Linked DNA regions of Homo sapiens: regions 1 and 2 are each linked to region 3. Evidence: fine-mapped expression QTL. A gene starts in region 3. Each other region holds a variant in brackets. All regions are shown on one strand. Distances are from middle to middle.

Region 1 (8,184 bases), 52 kb after region 3:
TTCGAGAGGCAGGCCTTGCTGTATGACTGAAACACACTCTTGTAGCTGGTGGAAGTAAAACTATTACACTCTTTCAAGAAAGCAATTGGGCCGGGCATGGTGGCTCACGCCTGTAATCCCAGCACTTTGGGAGGCCGAGGCGGGTGGATCACGAGGTCAGGAGATCGAGACCATCCTGGCTAACACAGTGAAACCCCGTCTCTACTAAAAATACAAAAAATTAGCCGGGCGTGGTGGCGGGCACCTGTAGTCCCAGCTACTCGGGAGGCTGAGGCAGGAGAATGGCATGAACCGGGGAGGCGGAGCTTGCAGTGAGCCGAAATCACACCACTACACACCAGCCTGGGCGACAGAGCAAGACTCTGTCTCCCCAAAAAAAAAAAAAAAAAAAAAAAAGGAAAGCAATCGAGCATTGTGTATCTAGAACCTGAAAAATATTTAAGGCTTTTGATCTAACAATCTGAATCCTAGGGAAGCTTTCCAAAGATAATCAGGTATGTGACCAAAGAATATTACATGCAACATTATTTATAATGTTGAAAAATTGATCATCTCTTATGTCCCAAGTAGAATGGTTTAATAATGTAAACTGATGTGATGTGATGTGATATGATGTGAGCTGAGGTGAGGCAGCTTTAAAATCATAGCTTGGAATATTATTTGATAAACTGGGAAAAGGTTTGTGATATATTAAGTGAAAAGGAGATTCCAAAACGAAATAACCTGATTTTAAAATTAGTAGTAGTAGTGTATTGAGAAAAGGGTTGGAAGGGAATCAATTCAAGGCTATCATTTCTGGATAGTCAGTCTTGGAACATGCCCTGCTCTTAGTAAGGCATGCACTTTTATTTGTTGCTGGAATAAGCAAATGAATAAATTGTGGGGTTATGGATAAATCTTCTTCTCCATAGGTTTTGGAATTTCCCAAATTTTATACAATGAGAATGTATTTTTATCATAAAAACTAACCATTATGAAAAACATGTAGTATGTTGACACTCACTGAACAAGATAGAAAAAACCCTAGTAATTTTGTTCAATGTCCTTCAGTTTTACCATTTTCCAAAAGTTTAGAATACTGAAACCAACACTGGCTCATTTCCTTTTCATGGAGGGGGCTGGATGGATCCTTTAAAGAAGCCAAATCTTTTGTCATCTCTAGGCTTCAGGTCCCTCCTCCGGAAACAAAAGGAACTTAAGGTCCTTTCTGGCCTTAAAAAAGGGAGCTATAGATTCATTCCTGCTCAGTGGTCCTGGTTGATAGAATTCTTCCTTCATCAACAGCCTCTGCTAAAGAGCACCCTCAAAATTAAAGTCATGGTAAAAACTCTTGCCAGTTTTGCAGACATTTTTGTTTTGCTGCATGACTTTTGGACGAGAACTAGACTTGTGTCATTTCCATGTGAACAGACACGTGTTTTCCAGAGGGCAGACTGTGGTTAGGGCTGTGTCCCTGCGACCTTGTCTCTGCATAACCCAACGGGTCTGCATGAGAATAGGACTTTTCATCTCATTTTCACTGGTTTCATAATTAACCAAAGCACTTCGTATGTGCTAGAGGTCATGGTGGGAACGCTCAGGGTAAGGCTGTGGATGGTGCAGCTCAACCCATTTCTTATTTCTGAAGAACATTTTGAAGCATGCAGCCTATGGCTGGAAGGCAACTGAGTTCTATTCATAGAAAGGCAGCTCGATTTCTTTCCATGATATCCTTTCTTGAAAAAGTAAAAAACAAGCTGCTATGTGTCATCTCCAAGTATGGCAAATTGGTGCAGGAATTGTAAAAGAGCAGATTTCTTTACTGAGACCCATATCTGTTCCCCAACATCCCCCCTCCAAAGTGCGCCACCTCCAGTGGGCCTCCCTGTCATGCCCGGCCTGTGGACAGCCAGCCCCACCATCCCTCCCACCCCCTGCCAAGAATGGGGGGTGCCGTGTGGCCTGACAGTCTCTACCAGTCCTGCTCTCCCTTGGCTGACAAGCAAACCCATTTCTGGATGACGCGGAATGTGTCCTCTGCTCTCTGTGTTGTCTTTGGAGCTCAGGGGAGGGGTAAGGCCAAGCCATTACTAGGGTACTGGGAGCGGTGAAAAGGCCACATCCTTTCCAAGGAACACTTTTCCTGGAAAGCCCCTGGAGCTTAGCTGGCTCTCATCCTGTGAAGCCTGCTCTGGCCACTAGGGGGCAGGGCCATGAACTCAGCCCGGAAGGAGCCTGAGGGGCAGCCGGCACTCTGGAGGGACAGACATGTCGAACAGGCCACCAGGTGCAGACAGGCGAGGGAGGCAGTGGGGCGGAAAGGAAGATGCCTGGGGTGCATGGAAGTCAGTGCCCGTGGGTGCTGGCATCCTGCCTTCCCGGCCACCGCTAGATCAGGCTTCTGAGCCTGTTGGCCGTCAGGGCCGGACTGTGCCCCGTAGGCGCCATGGCAGTCCCTGTGGACTCCCCCACGCGTCACCAGGCAGCATACAGGTAACAGGTCTGGAAGGTCCCCAACAGACCAGCTGGACATGCTCGGACACTCTGGGGCTCCTCGTTCAGTGGCACAAACTCCAGGACCCAGTGGGGGAAGCAGGAACACACCAGGCTAGCAGTATGGCTAAATCCATTTATTCCAAAATAAAAAGCAAAATAAACAGGAGTTGCATCGCCAGGAAGTCACGACCCCATCCCCGCCTCCTTCCTCTGTCCTATGCTATCAAATAAATTCCCCAGCTGCAAATAATTATTAGAACCTCCCCGCCATGTGCCAGCTCCAATCTCCACTAGGTACTATACAGGGGCGGCCCTACCCCCCAGAATATATAAAACGTTACACAGACACAATGTGTACATGGGGGAAGGGGGGCCACCCTCAGCAGCTCATGCCCTTGCCTGGTCTACAGTTAGCCCCACTGTCCCGCCTCAGCTGCCTCTCTGACTAAGAAGACGGGAGCCTGAGGGAAAAATTGCTTTGGTGAAAGTAAGGAGGCCATGAGGCCTCCTCCGAACAAACCAACTCCCATCAGCCTCTGCCTCTTAAATAACAATCATCATCATCCAGAAATTTAAGGACTCAGCCCTGGCCAGGGTGGCAAAGGGTCTGTTTGTCTCTCCCTATTAGACAGGGGTCTTGTCTTGCTACTCTAATGGTAAAGGGGTGACTGGGAAGGGGTGGCAGGGACATGGTGGGGGTGGAGCCTCTGGCCCCACTTCTCCAGGCTTTGCTGACAGGGGCCTGCTTTTGTTTTTATTTTTATCCCATGACTTTTTTTAATCACGTTTTTTCTGTAACTTTTTTTTTTTTTTTTTTTTTGAGATGGAGTCTTGCTCTGTTGCCCAGGCTGGAGTACAGTGGTGCCATCTGGGCTCACTGCAACCTCTGCCTTTCGGGTTCAAGCAATTCTCCTGCCTCAGCCTCCCGAATAGCTGGGATTACAGGC[G/A]CCCGCCACCACACCTGGCTAATTTTTTGTATTTTTAGTAGAGACAGGGTTTCACCATGTTGGCCAGGCTGGTCTTGAACTCCTGACCTCAGGTGATCTGCCCGCCTCAGCCTCCCAAAGTACTGGGATCCCAAAGTGGGTGGATCACCTGAGATAGGGAGTTTGAGACCAGCCTGACCAACATGGAGAAACCCATCTCTACTAAAAATACAAAATTAGCCAGGCGTGGTGGTGAATGCCTGTAATCCCAGCTACTTAGGAGGCTGAGGCAGGAGAATCTCTTGAACCTGGGAGGTGGAGGTTCCGGTGAGCTGAGATTGTGCCATTGCACTCCGGCCTGGGCAACAAGAACAAAACTCCGTCTCAAAAAAATAAAAATAAAAAAGTTTTGGAAATAAGTTGTGGGAAAAAAGTTATGGAAAAAGTTATGGAAAAATATTCCAAAAAAAGTTTTACGAAAAAAAGTTATGTGATAAATATTAAATAAATAAAAGCAGGCCACTTTCAGCAAAGCCTGGAGAAGTGTCTGATGGGGGAGACAGGTGAAGATGAGATGAAGATCGCGGTCATCCAAAAGCAGGGAACTAGGCCCAGGGCGGTAGCTCACACCTGTAAGCCCAGTGAGCCACTGACCATAACATTTTTTATCCCGTAACTTTTTTATCCCATAACGTAACTTTATCCCATAACTTTTTAATCTCATAACTTTTTAAATCTCATAACTTTTTTTAATCTCCTAACTTTTTAAAATCCCATAACTATTTTTTCAGTATGTGTTCTTTTGGTAAACACTTGCAGCCGGGCGCGGTGGCTCACGCCTGTAATCCCAGCACTTTGGGAGGCTGAGGTGGGCAGATCACGAGGTCAGGAGTTTGAGACCAGCCTGGCCAACATAGTGAAACCCCCATCTCTACTAAAAATACAAAAATTAGCTGGGCATGGTGGCGTGCACCTGTAGTCCCAGCTACTCGGGAGGCTGAGGCAGGAGAACTGCTTGAAACCAGGAGGTGGAGGTTGCAGTGAGCCGAGATCGTGCCACTGCACTCTGGCCTGGGCAACAGAGTGAAATTCCATCTCAAAATAAATAAATTAATTAATTAGTTAAATGCTTGCATAGTCATATTACAATTTTGTAAAAATAAAAACACTATTTCATGCCAAGCATGCCTGGCATTTGCACAATCTCAATACCTTTAATACTATAGTTTTCAAGACACACAAAATAAAAATTTAAGGCAAAAACAGCACTTTGCAACAATAATTTATTACATACAGTAGCATCACAGCAGTATTCAATAATGCCACTTTAGGCAAAAGTCTTTCAGTATTTCCATTATAGATTCTGTTTACAAGAATTCCTAAATTGGTAAGTCATTATAAGAAAACTTGGCAAATAAAGTTTTGGACTGGAATTGGCATTTCTTTCTTTACTTTTCCTTCCCCTAGTTTCTTTCTTTTAAGCTACAGTATTCATATTTTAAAATGTTTTAATTTATTTCAAAACATTAAAATAGCAGTTACATTTTTTAATAGTTATACTATTGTAAAATGACTAAGAAAGTTTTAGAGAAACTATATTCTGGATAAGGCTGATTTACATTTTCAAATTTTCTAGAAATCAGCTTTGGTTTTAACATTAGTTTTTCAGTTCTGGAAAACCTATTAGTATTAATCAAATACTTCAAAATGATTATCATATACTGCAACCTTTAAATAAACAAGTATTTTGATTCTTTACCTCCTACAGAAATTCAAATTTATTCGGTTGAACTCACATTTTAAAATTCTATGTTTCCATGAACTCTAACCTTCTAATGTTGCCTGCTAAGCAAATTGAAAGCTGTCTTATACTGAATGAGAAAGAGAACAAATATCTGGCTGAATGAGGTATTGCAAAAGACTGCATGCCCTTTGAAGAAAGACTTAAGTTATTATAATATGATTTCCATCCTTGTTAGCTTTTTCTTAAATATATGACAAAAATACCTACACAAAAAGTAGTATCTCAGTTAATATAGTAAATTTATTTCCAGACAGACATTCAGCTTAAGTATGCCGGTATGTGAGTTAATCCAGAGGTACCTGATGAACACATTATTGTCAGATTGATTACAGATGCTAAACGCTATCCGAAGGTCATTCCTAGTCATTTACATTTATCAATGTAAAAGTGAAGTGATTTGAACTATTAAAATACCTTTGAAATAATTTATCAATGTATCAGATAAACCCAGTTTCAGAATGATAAAGAAAAACTGTTAGACCAAATAATGTGGCTAATTGACAGTGGTACGATTTCTAGCCCGAGGGTTTAAAATGGACTTAAAGTAACTGTCTTTAAACTGAACTCAAAGAATGCAAAAGCAGCAAGTTCAGAAAATAAAAGGCAACAACAGGACCTTAAGTCCATTTTAAACCCTCGGGCTAGAAATCGTACCACTGTTAATTAGCCACATTATTTGGTCTAACAGTTTATCATTCTGAAACTAGGTTTATCTAATACATTAATAAATTCATACAATTTGGAAGAGTCAGTTGAAGTCACAAGGACCCAATATTTGCATTTTTTTCCGTGAATCCAGGCAAATCAGTTATTTTGTCTGAAAAATAATACTGCTTTCCTATTAATGTCATATTTATAAAAGTATCATGAGGATGCCAAATGGAGACGGTCTAGTAACTACAAATCCCCACACCAGGGAGCGCACATACATCTCTCCCTACATCCTAATAATGTGATGTATTTTGGAATACAGACATTAGAACTTCATGAGGTTTTAACTGTTGATTCTTTCCCAAGCATCATCAAGTTATGATTTAGGCAACATATGACTGAAATAATTCATTCATAATATATAGGCGCATTCACATAAATATTGCACAAAATATGCCTCTAACTGAAACTGAAAGGTACAAAAACATATTTCACTCTTCGTAAAGAACTTTCGGAGGAAGTAGGACTCTGTGATTGTACAGACACTTTTCCTGATAAGACTTTGACATTCACAAACAGTAGATTGCACTGCAGTTTGTAAACATTTTAAGTCGCATAAACTTCTCCTTGATTTTCAAATATAGAATAATACTGTCTACTAAAACTCCTTTTTCTTTCAACCAAGTACTCTCACATATATTCATTTATAATATTATTTTTAAAGTGTTCTCCATTCAAGGAAAAGAAGTAATTTCCTATGTCAAAGTAGCCAATGTGGTTGAAGAATAGGTATGAGCCAGAGAGGTCTAGATGGTAAAATTAATCTTCTAGCCTCAGAGAAGCTCCGTGAACAGAGAGGAATGCCAGGTGTCACATAGCTTTCCTTCACTCGAATTCATTCCTGACTAGAGCCTGTATGCCTGTTTCAGGGACATCTAAACTCTTAAAGGATTTCTTATGATCTTTACTAAATACATTAAGAAGAATGCCAACCAGTGCCCTTTTGTGTACTGGGACATGTAGTCACGTGATTAAAACAGGGACCATGAACTCTGACTTTAAAATGTGTTATAGATATAAATGCTCTAAGCTAGGAAAGGTTTTCCACATCCACAATCAACGATGGGAGCCTTTCATTCCTCAGAAATAAGCCCTTTTTAGGTCATCAAAAAAGAGTACAACTGCCACAGCTCATGATGCAATATCTTCATAAGCCCAGAACACATACAAATCCTAAGGGAACTACCATAGTACAGTGCTCATTCTTGGCACCAAAACAAATAAAACACACTCTATCCTGCACATACCTGCCAGAGCAGGCCACTTTCCTCTTCTGGGAGATTTAAAAAGCTCCCCAAAATGTTATTACTCCCATCCCCAATACACAGAAAAAGGGGGAAAGGCTGTTTCCAGTGCTCCGCCTTTAAGCAACTGTAAATGTCAGTACTCACAGTGGCATATTACAAAGTAATAGACCGCGCACTTCAGGGCAAACCACATATTGAGCTGATGAAGAGCTCACTGTGATTAGGATTCGATCAAACATAATAGCAGAACATAAGCAAATTTTATCTGAATTCCATAATAAATATACATGCTGCAATAACATTAAAAAAGCATGGCAGCCTATCCCAAACCAGGAAGAATAGTTTTGTGCAAATAGTGGGTCTTTGTGTGTTTGAACACCCACCACATAAGGGCAAACTTGATATGCATGCTAATGACCTACAATTATCAAATTAAAAAAGAAACATGCTAAAGGATGCCAGAGTGAACATGAGGAAAAGACCCACTCTCCTTTAACTTTTTACAAATAAAATTTAAACTATAAATTAGAAACACAAATAAACATGAGTGGCTCTAACATTCAAATGAAGTAAATGAATTGTGTAGGAGATTAACCCCTTAACTTTTTTTTTTTTTTAATTTCTTGACCAGCTCTTAGATGATGGTGGTGTTTATCTCCCTGTTCTCGGCAGCTCGAAAAGAAAGGCATGCAGAGATTGCTGCCCAAGCCTGGGTGCTCCTGGGGAGTCCTGCGTTACAGGAAGCAGCTGCATGATCTGCTGTGCAGTGGGGTTGTCGTGGGGAGAACCCTCCCTGGCCTCTCCTGGTGCGGGCTCCACGCTGTCAGTGAGGCTCACCTCACAAAGATCTTCGGAGAGAGGGAGGAGGGGATCGGAGCGCCATGCGAGCCTCCCCTGCTCCTGCCTGCTCACCCTGCCTGAAGGTTCTACTGGCCATCCTGCTTGTCAGCACACACAAGCTCTTGGGGGGCTGGGGCTCCTAGAGTGGGCTCATCAGCAGGGTTCTGGGCAGTGGCCAGGA
Region 2 (8,184 bases), 21 kb before region 3:
AATCAGAAAGGTTAACAATGTTCCAAAAATTACACAACTAGTTAGTGACATACTCAGTATTCAAACTGCATTGGACCCAAAGCCCACATATGTGAACGCTATTCTCCACTAATGCACATGAGGACCTAGAGGGCTGAGTTGAAAGATTTGTGAGGCCACATCCACCAAAGAATGTGATGGACATAGACCTGACAAAGCACTCTCAAGAAGCTTTCAGACATCAAGATAGAGATCTAGGAGCACAGATAAGAGAACAGTTGATGGGTCGGGTGCGGTGGCTCAGGCCTGTAATCCTAACACTTTGGGAGGCTGAGGCGGGCAGATCATGAGGTCAAGAGATGGAGACCATCCTCGTTAACACGGTGAAACCCGTCTCTATTAAAAATACACAAATTAGCTGCGCCAGGTAGCAGGTGCCTGTAGTCCCAGCTACTCGGGAGGCTGAGGCGGGAGAATGGCGTGAACCCAGGAGGCGGAGGTTGCAGTGAGCCGAGATCACGCCACTGCACTCCAGCCTGAACGACAGAGCGAGACTCCGTCTCAAAAAAAAAAAAAAAAAAAGACTTTGCAGGGAAGACCTATGAAAAGGGTGAGAAAGGGCACAAGTTGCAGTAACAGTGTAAACAAAGCCAGAAAAATTGCAAAGGTGTGTGCGTGTGTGATCATGCCCTGATTCTTGTATAGTTAATTTCACCCCAGGCTTCTCAAACAGCACAGCCACATGATGTTTCAAAAAGTCCAAGTGGAACCTCTTCGGAAAGATGCCCCACCATTGGCAGAGGCTGTGACCTTTTTCCTCAGGTACCAGGGGTTGCTACATGGGGAATGGGTGGACACTGGGCTGTAAATACTGCGTCTGGAATTTATTCCTTTTGGTGGATGCTTGGTCTCGCTGACTTCAAGAATGAAACCACGGACCTTCACGGTGAGCGTTACAGCTCTTAAAGATGGTGTGTCCGGAGTTTGTTCCTTCAGATGTTCAGATGTGTCCGGAGTTTCTTCCTTCCAGTGGGTTCGTGGTCTCACTGACTTCAGGAGTGAAGCCGCACACCTTCGCAGTGAGTGTTACAGCTCTTAAAGGTGGCTCATCTGGAGTTGTTTGTTCCTCCCGGTGGGTTTGTGGTCTTGCTGACTTCAGGAATGCAGCCGCAGACCCTCGCATTGAGTGTTACAGCTCATGAAGGTAGTGCGGACCCAGAGTGAGCAGCAGCAAGATTTACTGTGAAGAGCGAAAGAACAAAGCTTCCACAGCATGGAAGGGCACCCGAGTGGGTTGCCTGCTGCTGGCTTCGCTGGCCAGCTTTTATTGCCTTATTTGGCCCCACCCACATCCTGCTGATTAGTCCATTTTACAGAGTGCTGACTGGTGCGTTTACAGTCCTTTAGCTAGACACAGAGTGCTGATTGGTGCGTTTTTACAGTGTGCTGATTGGTGCATTTACAATACTTTAGCTAGACAAAGAGTGCTGATTGGTGCGTTTTTAATCCTCTAGCTAGACAGAAAAGTTTTCCAAGTCCCCACCCAACCTAGAAGCCCAGCTGGCTTCACCTCTCAATACCTTCTTTCTTTATCACTCCTCATTTTCTTTACGACTGATATTTGGGTGGTAGAAAGCTCACATCCTTTATGGAAAGTCACCTTCCTATAAGCTCCTCTGGAAGTAGAGTACAGAAAAATCTAACTAGGCCTCTCATGAGATTACAAGCAATGAGTGACATTTCTACTACAACTTATAATGCCAGTGCAGGGCAAGGTAGAAACTGCAAGACTTCAGTCACTATTCAGTTATGTAAAGACTAACACGTGGGCACAGTGGCTCACGCCTGTAATCCTAGCACTTTGGGAGGCCATGGCAGGAAGATTGCTTGAGCCCAGCAGTTGGATACCAGCCTGTGCAACATGGTGAGACACCATCTCTACAAAAAATAAAAAAAATTAGCTGGGCGTAGTGGTGCATGCCTGTGGCCCCAGCTACTGGGGAGGCTGAGGTGGGAAGATCACTTGAGCTGGGGAGGTCGAGGCTGCAGGGAGCTGTGATTGCACCACTGCGTTCCAGCCTGGGAGACAGAGCAAGAACTTGTCTCAAAAGAAAAAAAAAAAAAGAGCTAGACAAGGTGGCTCACTCCTGTAATCTCAGCACTTTGAGAGGCCGAGGCAGGTGGAACCCCTCAGGTCAGGAGGTCCAAACCAGTGTAGCCAACATGGTGAAATTCTGTCTCTACTAAAAATACAAAAATTAGCCAGGCATGGTGGCATGCATCTGTAGTCCCAGCTATTTGGGAAGCTGAGGCAGGAGAATTGCTTGAACCCGGGAGGCGGAGCTTGCAGCGAGCCAAGATCACACCACTGCACTCCAGCCTGGGCAACAGAGCAAGACTCTGTCTCAAAAAAATTTTAAAAAAATTAAAAAAAAAGACTAACACAGGAAAAAACGGGAGAGACATATAGCTATGGAGCAATGTTCCTCCCTAAGACTCCAGTCAGTTCATTGACACATGTCCAGTTTGAATTTTTTTTTTTTTTTAAAAGAAAGGCCAGGTTGTACCACCTTCCTTACAATACAGAAACAAGCTCTCTCAACCACAAGCATCAATGACATTATCCAGTTTCGTGGAATCACTGGCAATGCCCCCATGTATCAGAATGTCTTCTGTGGCTGAATTTACATGTGAAGGTTAATTAAACAAAGCTTTATTTCAGTATCATGGCTTGTTTGCATTTACTCATTCATGTACCAACTGGCATAAGTGATACCTCCTCCAGGGAGCCTTCCTTGACTCTCAAGATAGCCCTTCTCTGGCTGACATATACTTCTTGTATTGAAACTATGTGTCTGGGCCGGGCATGGTGGCTCACACCTGTAATCCCAGCACTTTGGGAGGCCGAGGCAGGCGGATCACCTGAGTTCAGGAGTTTGAGACCAGCCTGGCCAACATGGCAAAAGCCTGTCTCTACTAAAAATACAAAAATTAGGTGGGTGTGGTGGCGCATTACTGTAATCCCAGCTACTGGGGAGTCAGAGGCAGGAGAATCGCTTGAACCCAGGAGGTGGAGGTTGTGGTGAGCTGAGATCACCTCACTGCATTCCGGCCTGAAGGACAGAGTGAGACTCTGTCTCAAAAAAAAAAAAAAAAAGAAAAAAGAAAGAAAGAAACTGTGTGTCTGTATGTCTGTTTCCCACAACCACTCTGTGCTCCTCAAGAGAACTGTCATGTTTATACCTGTATCCCCAGCACCCTCAACTAGGCCTGGATATAAGAGGTAATGAGTGTTTACTGAATTAAATTGAATAAATTAGAGAGATACAATGTGGGGTTCGACGTGTGTCCATATATTCTGTTTGTAACATGCCTCTGACTCTGGAGAGGGAAGACAGGCTATGCTGGCACCTAGACTCAGGCTTAGGTGCTAACATTTAGATGCTTCAGGTTTCCTTCAGTTGAGCCCAAGTCACCTGGATAAGGAAATTTATGTATTTTTAGTACATAAGTGACAGATTCAGGGCAAACTCAGTAATAAAAGCAAGCTTCTGGCTTCAAGATCCCAAGAGATTTTCTCTTAAAGAGTTTGGGCTGGACGCAGTGGCTCAAGCCTGTAATCCCAGCACTTTGGGAGGCCGAGGCGGGCAGATCACGAGGTCAGGAGTTCAAAACCAGCCTGGCCAAAATGGTGAAACCCCACCTCTACTAAAAATACAAAAATTAGACCGGGTGTGGTGGCTCAGACCGGGCGCGGTGGCTCAGACC[G/A]GGCGCGGTGGCTCACGCCTGTAATCCCAGCACTTTGGGAGGCCGAGGAGGGCGGATCATCTGAGGTCAGGAGTTCGAGACCAGCCTGGCCAACATGGTGAAACCCCGTCTCTTCTAAAAATACAAAAATTAGCCGGGCATGGTGGCAGTTGCCTATAATCCCAGCTACTCGGGAGGCTGAGGCAGGAGAATTGCCTGAATACAGGAGGCGGAGGTTGCAGTGAGCCAAGATCATGCCACTGCATACCAGCCTGGGCAACAGAGCAAGACTCCATCTCAAAAAAAAAAAAAAAAGAATTTTATAGGCAACTAAAATGGGTGGGACCAACCTGCCATCCCAGCTACAGAGAGAAAAGCCAAACATTAGTGGACTGGGACCTTACTGTGGATGAAGAATCTAGTATCTGGGGCGGAAAGCAAGGTCCTCCCAGGAGAAGAGCAAGAAAGGAAGGTTGATGCTAGAGCCCGTGGAAGGGTCTTAAATTCTACATTAAACGAGATTCTACTTTCGTCTGTAGACAATAGGAAATGATTTAAGATTTTATAAGCAGGGGAGGAGTAGGATTTGATTCAACAAAGATTTATGAAATGTTTACTTTTGTACTAGTATGAACAAGGGCATAAAGTTGAGTTAAACATAGTCACTGCCCTTTAGACAAGTACACAAGTGACTGTAATGCAAGATGAAATAAGAAGTGAGTGAAACCCAAGATGTAGAAAGAAAGGATTATAGAAGTCCAAAGGAAATCCTATCTGCTTGATAGAGGAGATCTGGAAATACTTTATGGAGAGGGAGGTGTTTTAATGGGGCCTTGAAGAATAGGTACTTTATAAACAAAATTCCCTGAAGAGGCAACATGAACAACAATAAACTTGTAAAAGTTGTGTAACTGCTGGGCACGGTGGCACACGCCTGTAATCCCAGTACTTTGGGAGGCCCAGGTGGGAGGATCACCTGAGGTCGGGAGTTCGAGACCAGTCTGCCCAACATGGCGAAACCCCATCTCGACTAAATACAAAAAATTAGCCGGGTATGGTGGCACATGCCTGTAATCCTAGCTACTCGGGAGACTGAGGCAGGAGAATTGCTTGAACCCAGGAGGTGGAGGTTGCGGTGAGACAAGATCGTGCCACTGCATGCCAGCCTGGGAGACAGACTGAGACTCTGTCTAAAAAAAAAAAAAAAAAGTTGGGTAACTTCCCCACTAATCAGGGAGATACTTTTTAACTTAATTTAATTTATTTATTTGAAACAGGATCTGGCTCTGTCATCCAGGCTGGAGTGCAGTGGCATGATCATAGCTCACTGCAGCCTTGACCTCCAGTGCTCAGGTGATCCTCCCACCTCAGCCTCCTGAGTAGCTGGAACTACAGACATCAGCCACCACGCCAGATAATTTTTATTTTTTTTTTTAGAGATGGGGTCTCACTATGCTGTCCAGGCTGGTCTTGAACTCCTGAGCTCAAGAAATCCTCCTGCCTCAGCCTCCCAAAATGTTGGGATTACAGGTGTGACCTACTATGCCCAGCTAAGACGCATATTAACACCACAATGATATATCATTTCATGCTCAAAAACATTTTATAAATAAAAATTTTACATATATAGATATATATGTATATATACATATATTTGCTTTTTTCTATATATATACATATATACATATATGTATAATACATGTATATTTATATAATACATATGCTTCCAATTAACTACTATAAATTTGTATTAGTAAATCCTTTGATTTTCATTAGTTTGTATGAGTATCATTATTGCTTAAGCAATATATTTAGTTTTGCCTGTTTTTTACCTTTACTGTATTTTTTTTTTTCCCCGAGATGGAGTCTCACTCTGTCGCCCAGGCTGGAGTGAGTGGCACAATCTTGGCTCACGGCAACCTCCACCTCCCAGGTTCAGGGGATTTTTCTGCTTCAGCCTCCTGAATAGCTGGGACTACACGCATGAGCCACCACGCCTGGCTAATTTTTGTATTTTTAGTAGAGACATGGTTTCACCATGTTGGTCAAGCTGATCTCAAACTCCTGACCTCGTGATCTGCCCGCCTCGGCCTCCCAAAGTGCTGGGATTACAGGCGTGAGCCACCGCACCTTCCCTGATCTTTACTGTATTTTTGCTCTTACTAAATATATATGTATGTATATATAGAGAGACAGGAAATAAAGCAAGTATATATAAAGGCATAGGAGTGAGAAATGCCAGACTCTTTTCCTAAGCTGTATAGTGGGTACGTGGTTGCTCTTTACACTAATTTTTGTATATTTTAATATTGATTTTTTTAAAAAAAGAGTAGATAGTAGTTCAGCAGGAGGAATTGAAGCAAGAAGCTATTCTAGAGAGAAGAAATTGTACTGGAGAGAGCAGGCTGTGTTCAGGAAACAAAGTGTCATCATTCTGCTTGGCAGAATAAAATACATTTTTTCTTTGTCATAAGAGCAGCAACTTGCATTTGTGCACTTTATAAAATACTTTCATGTGCTCCCACCAGTTAATTATCAACTTGAAGAACAAGTATTCCATTTGATAGATGAGGAAACAGGCTCAGAAAGAATAAGCGATATATTTGTGAATATTTTTGGCAGAGAAAAAGCTTAAAAGGATATACAACAAACGGTAGTGGTTATCTCTGGGAAGTGGAATTTACTCTGTTTGCTTAATTGTATTTTCTGATATTTCTATAAATGAACCTGAAGTAAAAAATAATAAAGCAGAGAGGGGGAAGGAAGACAACAGGAAAACAATGACTTCCTCAAAATCAAATGTTCATGTTTTCAGATTCCCAATCCTGCTCTGAGTTACTCTAATGAAAACAACAGAAGAAATACAAGAAAGATTCTAACATAGAAAAAAATGTTCAACCTCACTGGTAAGCAAAGAAATGCAAATTAAGACAATATGTAAGAATCATGTCTATTAAATTAGCAAAACTTTTTTAAAGATGAGGGTGTGATGAGACTAGTAGCCATTTACTGTTCGGAACACTGTAAATTGATACAATCACTTTAAAAATGATTCCACAGCAGCCAGGCGTGGTGGCTCACACCTGTAATCCTAGCCCTTTGGGAGGCCGAAGTGGGCGGATCACTTGTGGTCAGGAGTTTGAAACCAGCTTGGCCATCATGGTGAAACCCCATCTCTACTAAAAATACAAAAAATTAGCTGGGCATGGTGGTGCGCACCTGTAATCCCAGCTACTCGAGAGGCTGAGGCAGAAGAATTGCTTGAACCTGGGAGGCGGAGGTTGCAGTGAGCCGAGATCGTGCCACTGCACTCCAGCTTGAGTGATAGAGCAAGACCTGTCTCAAAAAAAAAAAAAAAAAAAAAAAAAAGATTCTGCAGCAAGTAAGGGAGGTGTAAAATTGTTCTCACCCTGTGAAAATAATCTAAAATGTGGAAACTTTTTTTCTGGGAAACAACAAAATGTTCACATGAGCATCTTTAATGCAGCAGGGCATCCCCCATTCAGACACCAGGTCCAAGATTGGCTGTTTATAGAAAGATGGCCTATAATCTTCTGGACATTTATCTGCTCTAATTTATATACATAAAGGAGCAGAGGGTGTTTTGGGGTTGGTTGGTGGGGCGGGGGGTTTGCTGAAGGAAATATAAGAAAATGTGTGTTTGTGCGTGTGTGTGCATGTGTTTGAGTGGGAATGAAGGAACTGATCTAGTGTGTCTGTTCAGGGCCCAGGCACTCAGATTACTCTTTTTCCCCCTCAGTATAACTCAATGAGATTTGAGTGAAAAAGATCAATCTCTGGAGAAGTGTTCTGTTTTCTTATTTGCTTTGTTTTATTTTTCTTGTGAAATACATTGTAAATGAAAAGCATATAAGTAATGCATATTAACAATTTAAATAATTATTTTACAAAGAAAACCTGTGTACTCGGCAGCCAACTTAAGAAACAGAAACTTTGATGGCAGAGGTGGGCGGATTACTTAAGACCAGGAGTTCGAGACCAGCCTGGCCAACATGGTGAAACTCCATCTCTACTAAAATTACAAAAATTAGCTGGGTGTGGTGGTGCATGCTTGTAATCCCAGCTACTTGGGAGGCTGAGGCAGAAGAACCACTTGAACCCAGGAGGCTGAGCTTGCAGTGATCTGAGATCCTGCCACTGCACTCCTGCCTTGGCAACAGAATGAGACACTGTCTCAAAACAAAACAAAAAAAGAAATAGAAACTTTGCATCTTTCTCTCCCATTCCAATTAATTACTATACTGAAGTTTGTATTAGTAAATCCTTTGATTTTCATTAGTTTGTGTATCCTTATTGCTTAAGCAATATATTGTTTAGTTTTGCCTCTTTTTTACCTTTACTGTATTTTTACTCTTACTAAATATATATTTCTATGTCTTGCTTTTTACACTCAATATTGTTTGAAGCTTGTCTGTGTTGATGCATGTAACTGTAGTC
Region 3 (8,184 bases):
TTTTTTATTTTTAGTAGAGACAGGGTTTCATCATGTTGGCCAGGCTGGTCTCGAACTCCTGACCTTATGATCCGCCCACCTCAGCCTACCAAAGTGCTGGGATTACAGGCGTGAGCCACTGCCCCCAGCCTGTTTTTAAGTGACAGAAAAAATTACCTCCTTTTCCACAAAGACCTCAGAAGTCTCAGAAGTTAAGTGGCAGAGGTGAGAGTCCAACCCAGGCTGGAAAAGGGGGATAGTAATACATAAGTCAAAAAGTTATGATGAGATATTAAAAGGACAATAAATAGCAAAGACATTTGCAAACCATAAAATGCATAAGGAAGTAATTGTTTTTCTCCCAAGGAGGCAACAATTAATCTTACAGAGGTCTGGAGCTCTAAGATGCCAACATACCAGAAACTCCTCAGACCTGGGCCCTCTCCAAATATCTAAGTCTCAAATTAAAGGAGAGCAGTGGTCAGGCATGGTGGCGCCCATAATCCTAGCACTTTGGAAGGCGGAGGCCAGTGGATTGCTTGAGCTCAGGAGTTTGAGACCAGCCTGGACAGCATAGTGAGACCAGCCTTGCCAACATAGCAAAATCCTGTCTCTACTAAAAACACAAAAAATTAGCTAGGCATGGTGGCACATGCCTGTGATCGCAGCTACTCAGGAGGTTGAGGTGGGAGAATCGCTTGAGCCCAGGAGGCACAGATTGCAGTGAATCGAGATCGCGCCACTGCACTCCAGCCTGGATGACAGAGCGAGACCCCGTCTCAAAAAAAACAAGATAAATAAATGAAATAAAGGAGAGTAGCATTCTTACCCTTTGAGAGCCCATTCTTCTAACTGTGCTGGGTGGCATTCCTGGAGAGGATTCTCTAAGCAGTGTCCAGGTAACCCACTCTTCCCTGAAGTCCCCAGCCACATTATCAAGCGTCATCAGTTCCTAAAGCAAGAGACCTCAATGTGCATCAGTAGCTCCCTAGATATTCTCACCATTGTCTGAAAGCCAAAAAATGGCCACCAGTGTACACAAACAACCCCCCACACCTGACCAGAATGGTCCTGAGGTAAATTCTGTCAACCACAGAGGGGTGCTTTTCTAAGTCTGTTTTTACATACGTCTTCTCCTGGCCAACTTTCCCATTACTAAGAGAGGCCTAGGCCTCCCAAACACATCGACAGAACCCAGTCTTTTAGACACATTGACTTTTTGAGGAACAAATTGTCCACGATGAACAAGGTAAACAAAGGAGAGAGTTGGCAGGTGTAATTTGATTTCTGGAAAGCTTTTGATTCTCCCCAACTTCATTTTCCTCAGCAAGCAAGGAAATTGTGGCCTTAACTATACTCATATTAGTTATGGGAGCAGCTAACTTCTTGGCTTGCAGATTTGGTGTCAACCTCAAGGGACAGATTATACAGAACCCCAAAGGGAACTGTGTTGGATACCATTCTATTTCAAGATCTTAATGGAGTCAGAAATAAGACTGAAAAAGACATTTTTTTTTTAAAAAAAAGAAGACATGGATAGGTTGTAAAAATAAGTGAAAGTGGGAATAAGCACAAAACACAACTCTTAGGGGCTGAAACCAATCATTAATATATTAATAAATCGACAGCAATATCATGAAAAACATTACTTTTTGGAGGATAGTCAAGAGTGAATTACTGGATGGATCAGTCATTTATTCAACAATTAATATGTTGCCAGGCATAGGAGTCACATAGAAATTAAGATAATGTTTTTTCCCTTAAAAAGTTTCCAATAAACCAGCCTCAGCAACATATTGAGACCTCTTTCTCTACAAAGAACTTTTAAAAATCAGCCAGGCATGGTGGCATGCACTTGTGGTCCCAGCTACTCAGGAGGCTGAAGTGGGAGGATCACTTCAGCCCAGGAGTTCCAGGCTGCAGTGAGCTATGATGGCGCCACTGCACCCCAGCCTAGCAACAGAGTGAGCCCCTGTCTCTCCCTTAAAAAAAAAAAAAATGCAGCCAGCATGACCACCCACTACAAAGAATATTGCATTTCAAGGGAGGAAGGACCAGACTGTGGTGAAGAAGTTTTACTCTTTCACATCTTTTGTCCCACTACAAATCACCTATTTACTACTGGAACACACACACACACACACACACACACACACACACACACACACTTTTGGGGGAAATATTTTTGTATTTACAGACATTATTATTGGTCATTTATAAAGTATTGAGTTTTTAAGGATCTAAAAACCATCTCTCTGGTTTAAAACTTTAACAAACAACAATAATGTAATTAGAAAGTAAAAATTGTAATAAGAGTTTTCAGTATTGGCCAGGTGCTGTGGCTCATGACTGTAATCCCAGCACTTTGGGAAGACGAGACGGGCGGATCACCTGGGGTCAGGAGTTCGAGATCAGCCTGGCCAACATGGTGAAACCCTGTCTCTACTAAGAATACAAAATTAGCCGGGTGTGGTGGCACACGCCTGTAATCCCAACTACTTGGGAGGCTGAGGCAGGAGAATCGCCTGAACCCGGGAGGTGGAGACTGCAGTGAAAGGAGATAGCGCCATTGCATTCCAGCCTGGGCAACAAGAGCGAAATTCCGTCTAAAAAAAAAAAAGAGTTTTGAGTATAATTTTTATTTCTACATTCATTACAAAACACAGCTGCAGGGCCCACTTGCTGGAGACAGCGCCACTGAGGAGGGGAGACGTCTTAGCCACGGTTATAGAAACCCTGTTTCCCAGCCCGTCCCTTTCCCCATGCACAGGTGACCTCAAAGGCCCCACAGCGCTGAGGGGCTGTGACTAAGTGCCACTGTGAGAAGCTCCAGTGCGTTCACCGGGTTTATTAATAGGAACATGACTGCACGCGTGGGGCCGAACCCCGTTCTTCTTCTCGGTGCTCGCGCCCTAACCGGGGTGCGGCGGTCAGAGGGTCACAGATCAGCTGAAACCCTGGGACCACCATCGAGAAGCAAGAAAACTGATTAAGAGAATGACTTATCCCGCCGACGGTATAGAGACCACAGCTACCTCTCCCACAGCCCAGCAAGACCCGGGGGCTCCCAAAGGCCAGCGCGGGAACCCCGCTGAGAAAACGTCTGGGTGGCGGGCAAGCCCCCTCCACGCCCCTCAGCAGCGCGCCGCTGCCGCCGCGGTCTCCCTCCTTGAATCACTCACCGCCCCAGGGCCCAGCCGGGGATGGAGCAGGAAGTGAGTCCTCCACCGCCGAGCCGCACCCGGCCCGCAACCCCGAGGCTGTGCCTCCCAGAACCCGACCGGGATTCGTGACAGGGCTGTGGGGACACAGGTGGGACTCCGGCTTCGACAGCCAGCGGCCGGAAAGTACCGCCCCCATCCTCTTGCTATTGGCTTTTCAGTTTCCATGGCTAGAATTTTTCTCTGTCCATAGGCTGATAGAGCTGTCAATTATCGCCTAGCCTTCTGGGAAACGTAGTCCCGAGCAAGACCTCAAAGGACTCGGAGCCGTGGATGTCCAGTTCCAAGCGTTGGAAAGTGCTAAACCCAATTCCCCAGCTACCGGTCCCCCGGAACCGCCTGTTTGGAGCCGAGGGATCTAAATGCTGTATCCTCACTGTGGCATCTGCAGATGTGAATCTCCTGGCCTCACCCACCTACCGCGGAGCAGCCTGGTGCCCACCATGAGGTCTCCCGCGCTCTGGCACTTCGCCCCTCCCCAGCGCAGAGCAGCTCAGCCCTCGGGCCTTTGCGGCCTCTCTTCTGCCCAGTCTTCCACCTCATCCCCGGCGGCCGGAGCCTGCAGGGTGTTTGCGGAGGCCAGGTCCCAGACCAACTCAAACTGGACATTGGAAAGGCCCAGCAGAAGCCCTTAGTAGAAAACAGACATTCCGCATCCTTCCCTTGGCATCAAACTCCCAGGCACATCCCCTTTCCGTCTGGTTGATAGCCAGAGGAGGCGGGCGAGGGCATCAAGTATTCTGGGAAATGTGATATCGGGCTTCAAACTGGGGAGGCTCCTGGGTCTCATGTGAGAGCCAGTGATCACTTTGGGTCGGCCCCTAGCTAAAAAACAACAAAGTCTTTCCTTAAAGTGAAGAAAATGTGCCTGTCTACTCCGTTTGTTGATTCAGTGCAATTTAGAAAAATAAAAGAACATTTTGTGATGTATTATAAAACGCTTAGAATTACCAGCCATAGAGTTTTTTTTTTTTTTTTTTTTTAGACGGAGTCTCGCTCTGTCGCCCAGGCTAGAGTGCAGTGGCACGATCTCGGCTCACTGCGAGTTCTGCCTCCCAGGTTCACACCATTCTCCTGCCTTAGCCTCCCGAGTAGCTGGGACTACAGGCGCCCGCCACCACACCCGGCTAATTTTTTGTATTTTTAGTAGAGACGGGGTTTCACCATGTTAGCCAGGATGATCTCCATCTCCTGACCTCGTGATCCGCCCGCCTCGGCTTCCTAAAGTGCTGGGATTACAGGCGTGAGCCACCGTGCCCGGCCCGAGTTAATGTTGAAGATCCCTTTGATGCTAATTCCACCATTCCTTCAACAAAAATAAGGTGCATTTTCCAGTGGATATTTATTGGGAACATTCTGTTCTCAAGATCGTTCTGGGGGCAGGGCGTGGTGGCTCACGCCTGTAATCCCAGCACTTTGGGAGGCCGAGGCGGGAGGATCACGAGGTCAGGAGATCGAGACCATCCTGGCTAACATGGTGAAACCCCGTCTCTACTAAATATAGAAAAAATTAGCCGGGCGTGGTGGCGGGCGCCTGTAGTCCCAGCTACTCGGGAGGCTGAGGCAGGAGAATGATGTGAACCCGGGAGGTGGAGCTTGCAGTGAGCCGAGATCGCGCCACTGGACTCCATCCTGAGCGACAGAGCAAGACTCCGTCTCAAAAAAGAAAAAAAGAAAGAAAAAAAAAAAAGATCGTTCTGGGAACTGTGATTACTCGGGAATCATACATAACCATTACCTTCATGAAGTTCACAGGCCAAAAGGGGAAATAAACCATAAAAGGTATCAAAATCCTAAGTAATTTTTTTTTCCATATAGCCAGTGGCATCTTAGTTATTTTGCTACACAATTATAGTCATCTGCAAGGTAACTACATTGCATTTTCGGAAACTCTGTCGACTATGAACAAATGTCTGGTTAGCAGAGGTAGTTAGACGTAGTTAGATTTAGTTAGACGAAATTGAGGAAAATGGAAATCTCAGAGGAGGTCAGTAACAAAGTAACACCCAGGAAACCTAGGGATTGCCAGTCCTCCTGTAACTGGAACAGAGTTCAGGACCTGGAGAACCGAAGGCATCTTCAGACCCCTCGGTAAGTCTTTCTAGCATTTTGCCATTAAGGAGATCATGAAGATTATTCTTCAATCTGGGACTGGAGTGGGGAGATGAATGAAGAGTCACAGAATCTGGCTGGTGGCTATCCCCTGCCGCTCTCTGCAGCTTCTGTTCCTTCTGCCTTACCTTGTTCTCTCGGCGGTTTGTTCACAATGATCAGGTGTGTGGGGAGTAGGGGAAAGGAAGCTTGGTCTCACGAGAAGAGCAGTCAGTACAGGAAACCAATCATGTACCCGCAATGGCCACGTGAAGAGAGGATCATTACCTGTTGAGGGGTTGGGTGCTAAAGGGCGTGGCCGAGAGGAGGCGTAGAAGAGCCAGGAAAAACTGTGAAAGGACTTCAAGGAGCATGAAAAGACAGAAAGACTTCAGCACTTGCTATAACTGAATTTATTTATTTATTTATTTATTTATTTATTTTGAGACAGAGTCTTGCCCTGTCGCCCAGGCTGGAGTGCAATGGCACCATCACAGCTCACTGCAACCTCTGCCTCCTGGCTTCAAGCGATTCTCCTGCCTCAGCCTCCCAAGTAGCTAGGATTACAGGCGTGCACCACCACGCCCGGCTAATTTTTTGTATCTTTAGTAGAGACGGGGGTGTCACCATGTTGGCCAGGCTGGTCTCGAACTCCTGACCTCAGGTGATCCACCCGCCTTGGCCTCCCATAGTGCTGGAACTACAGGCGTGAGCCATCGCACCCTGCCAGAACTGATTTTTTTAAAGAGAGAGTCTATCATTATCTATTGCTGTGTAACAAATTACCCCAAAATTTATTGGTTTAAAAAACCAAATATTTGGTTTTTGTGCTCCCAGCTGTTTGGAAAAGCCGCCGGTATTTCTCCACCTGGCTCTCCTCTACCTCCAGGCAGGCGCACCCGAGGTCCCCCTCCCACCCCACCTTCTGCCCTCCCGCACACTTGGACCAGTGCTGTTGACCCGGAAGCGGACATTTCTGCAGCTATTCTAAGCACACGTCGGCGGAGGGAGCGGGACGTGGCCAGCGGTCAGCGGCGAAGGAGGCAGGCCCTGCGCGGGGATCACGGAAGCCCTGTGATTCACCATGAAGTTCCAGTACAAGGAGGTCCATCCCTTTGAGTATCGGAAAAAGGAAGGAGAAAAGATCCGGAAGAAATATCCGGACAGGGTCCCCTTGATTGTAGAGAAGGCTCCAAAAGCAAGGGTGCCTGATCTGGACAGGAGGAAGTACCTAGTGCCCTCCGACCTTACCGATGGCCAGTTCTACCTTTTAATCCGGAAGAGAATCCACCTGAGACCTGAGGACGCCTTATTCTTCTTTGTCAACAACACTATCCCTCCCACTAGTGCTACCATGGGCCAACTATATGAGGACAGTCATGAGGAAGATGATTTTCTGTATGTGGCCTACAGTAATGAGAGTGTCTATGGGAAATGAGTGGTTGGAAGCCCAGCAGATGGAAGCACCTGGACTTAGGGGTAGGGGAGGGGTGTGTGTGTGACTTGGGGAAAGAGAGGGCGGCTCCCACCGTGAGGAGACAGAAGGTGAAGACATATAGAAACTTTACACCGCACACACCGTCAACGCATTTTCACATGCTCAACTGATATTTTTTGTTGCTTCCTTGGCCCAGGGAGAAAGCATGTCAGGACAGAGCTGTTGGATTGGCTTTGATAGAGGAATGGGGATGATGTAATTTTATGGCATTCCTGAGATTTAATTTTTGTGCAGTTTCATAGAAAGGTCGGTCAGGAGGTGGACAAGTTGGGGTCAGAGATGATGGCAGTCCAGCAGCAACTCCCTGTGCTCCCTTCTCTTTGGGCAGAGATTCTGTTTTTGACAGTTGCACAAGACAGGTAGGGAAAGGGGACTTGTGGTAGTGGGCCATACCTGGGGACGAAAAGAGACCCACTGTAATTGATGCATCGTGGCCCCCGATCTTCCGTATCCCACACTTCTTTTCTCCCATCCCAGTTGCAATCTCACTCACAAACATCACAGTACCACCCCAGGGGCGGCAGTAGACACCAACCCAGAAATTTAGACAGGGATCTCTTATCTTTGGAAAATAGGGGTTAGGCATGAGGGTGGTTATGATTAAGAAGATAATTTTGTTGTTAAATAGCATTAAACTGGAATTGACAGAGTGAGTTGAGCATCTCTGTCTAACCTGCTCTTTCTCTCTGGTGCTCCTCATCTCACCCCTACCTTGGAATTTAATAAGCTTCAGGCATTTCCAATTGCAGACTAAAACCACTTCTACCATCTCCTCTAGTATTTTCCATGTATCAGGACAGAGATGTCTTATGTAGGGAAGGGGCAGGTATGAAGTGAGGTAGATTATCTATACCTCTCACTCATTCAGGATTCTCGCTCCCATGCTGCTGTCCCTTCATTCTCACACTCACAGGAATGCTATGTGATGGCCAGCTGCTTCCCTTCTTGGTTATCCACTGCAGCTGCTAGTTAGAAAGGTTTGCAGGGATGACTTTTAGTAAATCATGGGGATTTTATTGATTTATTATCACTTATAGGATTTTGTGGGGTGGGAGTGGGGAGCAGGAATTGCACTCAGACATGACATTTCAATTCATCTCTGCAAATGAAAAGGGTTCTTCCTCTTGGGGGAAATCTGTGTGTCAGTTCTGTCAGCTGCAAGTTCTTGTGTAATGAAGTCAATGCTGTCAGGCCAAGTGAAGGGAAAAGAGAGATCAGACTGTTACTGTGTCTATGTAGAAAGGAAAGACATAAGAGACTCCATTTTGAAAAAGACCTGTACTTTAAACAATTGCTTTGCTGAGATGTTGTTAATTTGTAGCTTTGCCCCAGCCACTTTGACCCAACCACTGTGACCCAACTTGGAGCTCACAAAAACATGTGTTGTATAAAATC

Which allele goes with the higher level. Positions count from the first base shown, and alleles are read on the strand shown. Sizes are in standard deviations (SD) of each study's normalised expression. Not every link is listed here.
As copies of G replace A in region 1, the expression in tibial artery of the gene that starts at base 3,289 in region 3 goes up (small effect, 0.32 SD a copy in GTEx).

What was found. PIP is the estimated chance that this variant, and not a neighbour inherited with it, causes the effect. A credible set is the group of variants that fine-mapping cannot tell apart.
Region 1: its variant is the best candidate, but not a certain one, in a credible set for the expression of ZNF774 in tibial artery (GTEx, PIP 0.72).
Region 2: its variant is the best candidate, but not a certain one, in a credible set for the expression of ZNF774 in tibial nerve (GTEx, PIP 0.53).

The regions. Positions count from the first base shown.
Region 1 is chr15:90,295,386-90,303,569 of GRCh38, reverse strand. It overlaps the pseudogene GOLGA2P8. Among named protein-coding and RNA genes, the nearest start is that of NGRN, 34 kb to the right of the region's middle. RefSeq lists an enhancer at 2,152-2,912 and a silencer at 3,257-3,449. The variant G/A (reference allele first, on the strand shown) is at 3,423.
Region 2 is chr15:90,368,501-90,376,684 of GRCh38, reverse strand. No RefSeq gene overlaps it. Among named protein-coding and RNA genes, the nearest start is that of IQGAP1, 16 kb to the left of the region's middle. The variant G/A (reference allele first, on the strand shown) is at 3,748.
Region 3 is chr15:90,347,389-90,355,572 of GRCh38, reverse strand. ZNF774 (zinc finger protein 774) reads right to left here and starts at 3,289. Exons shown (of 4, transcript NM_001004309.3): 1 at 3,162-3,289; 2 at 809-931. The coding sequence starts at 912. It also overlaps the pseudogene GABARAPL3.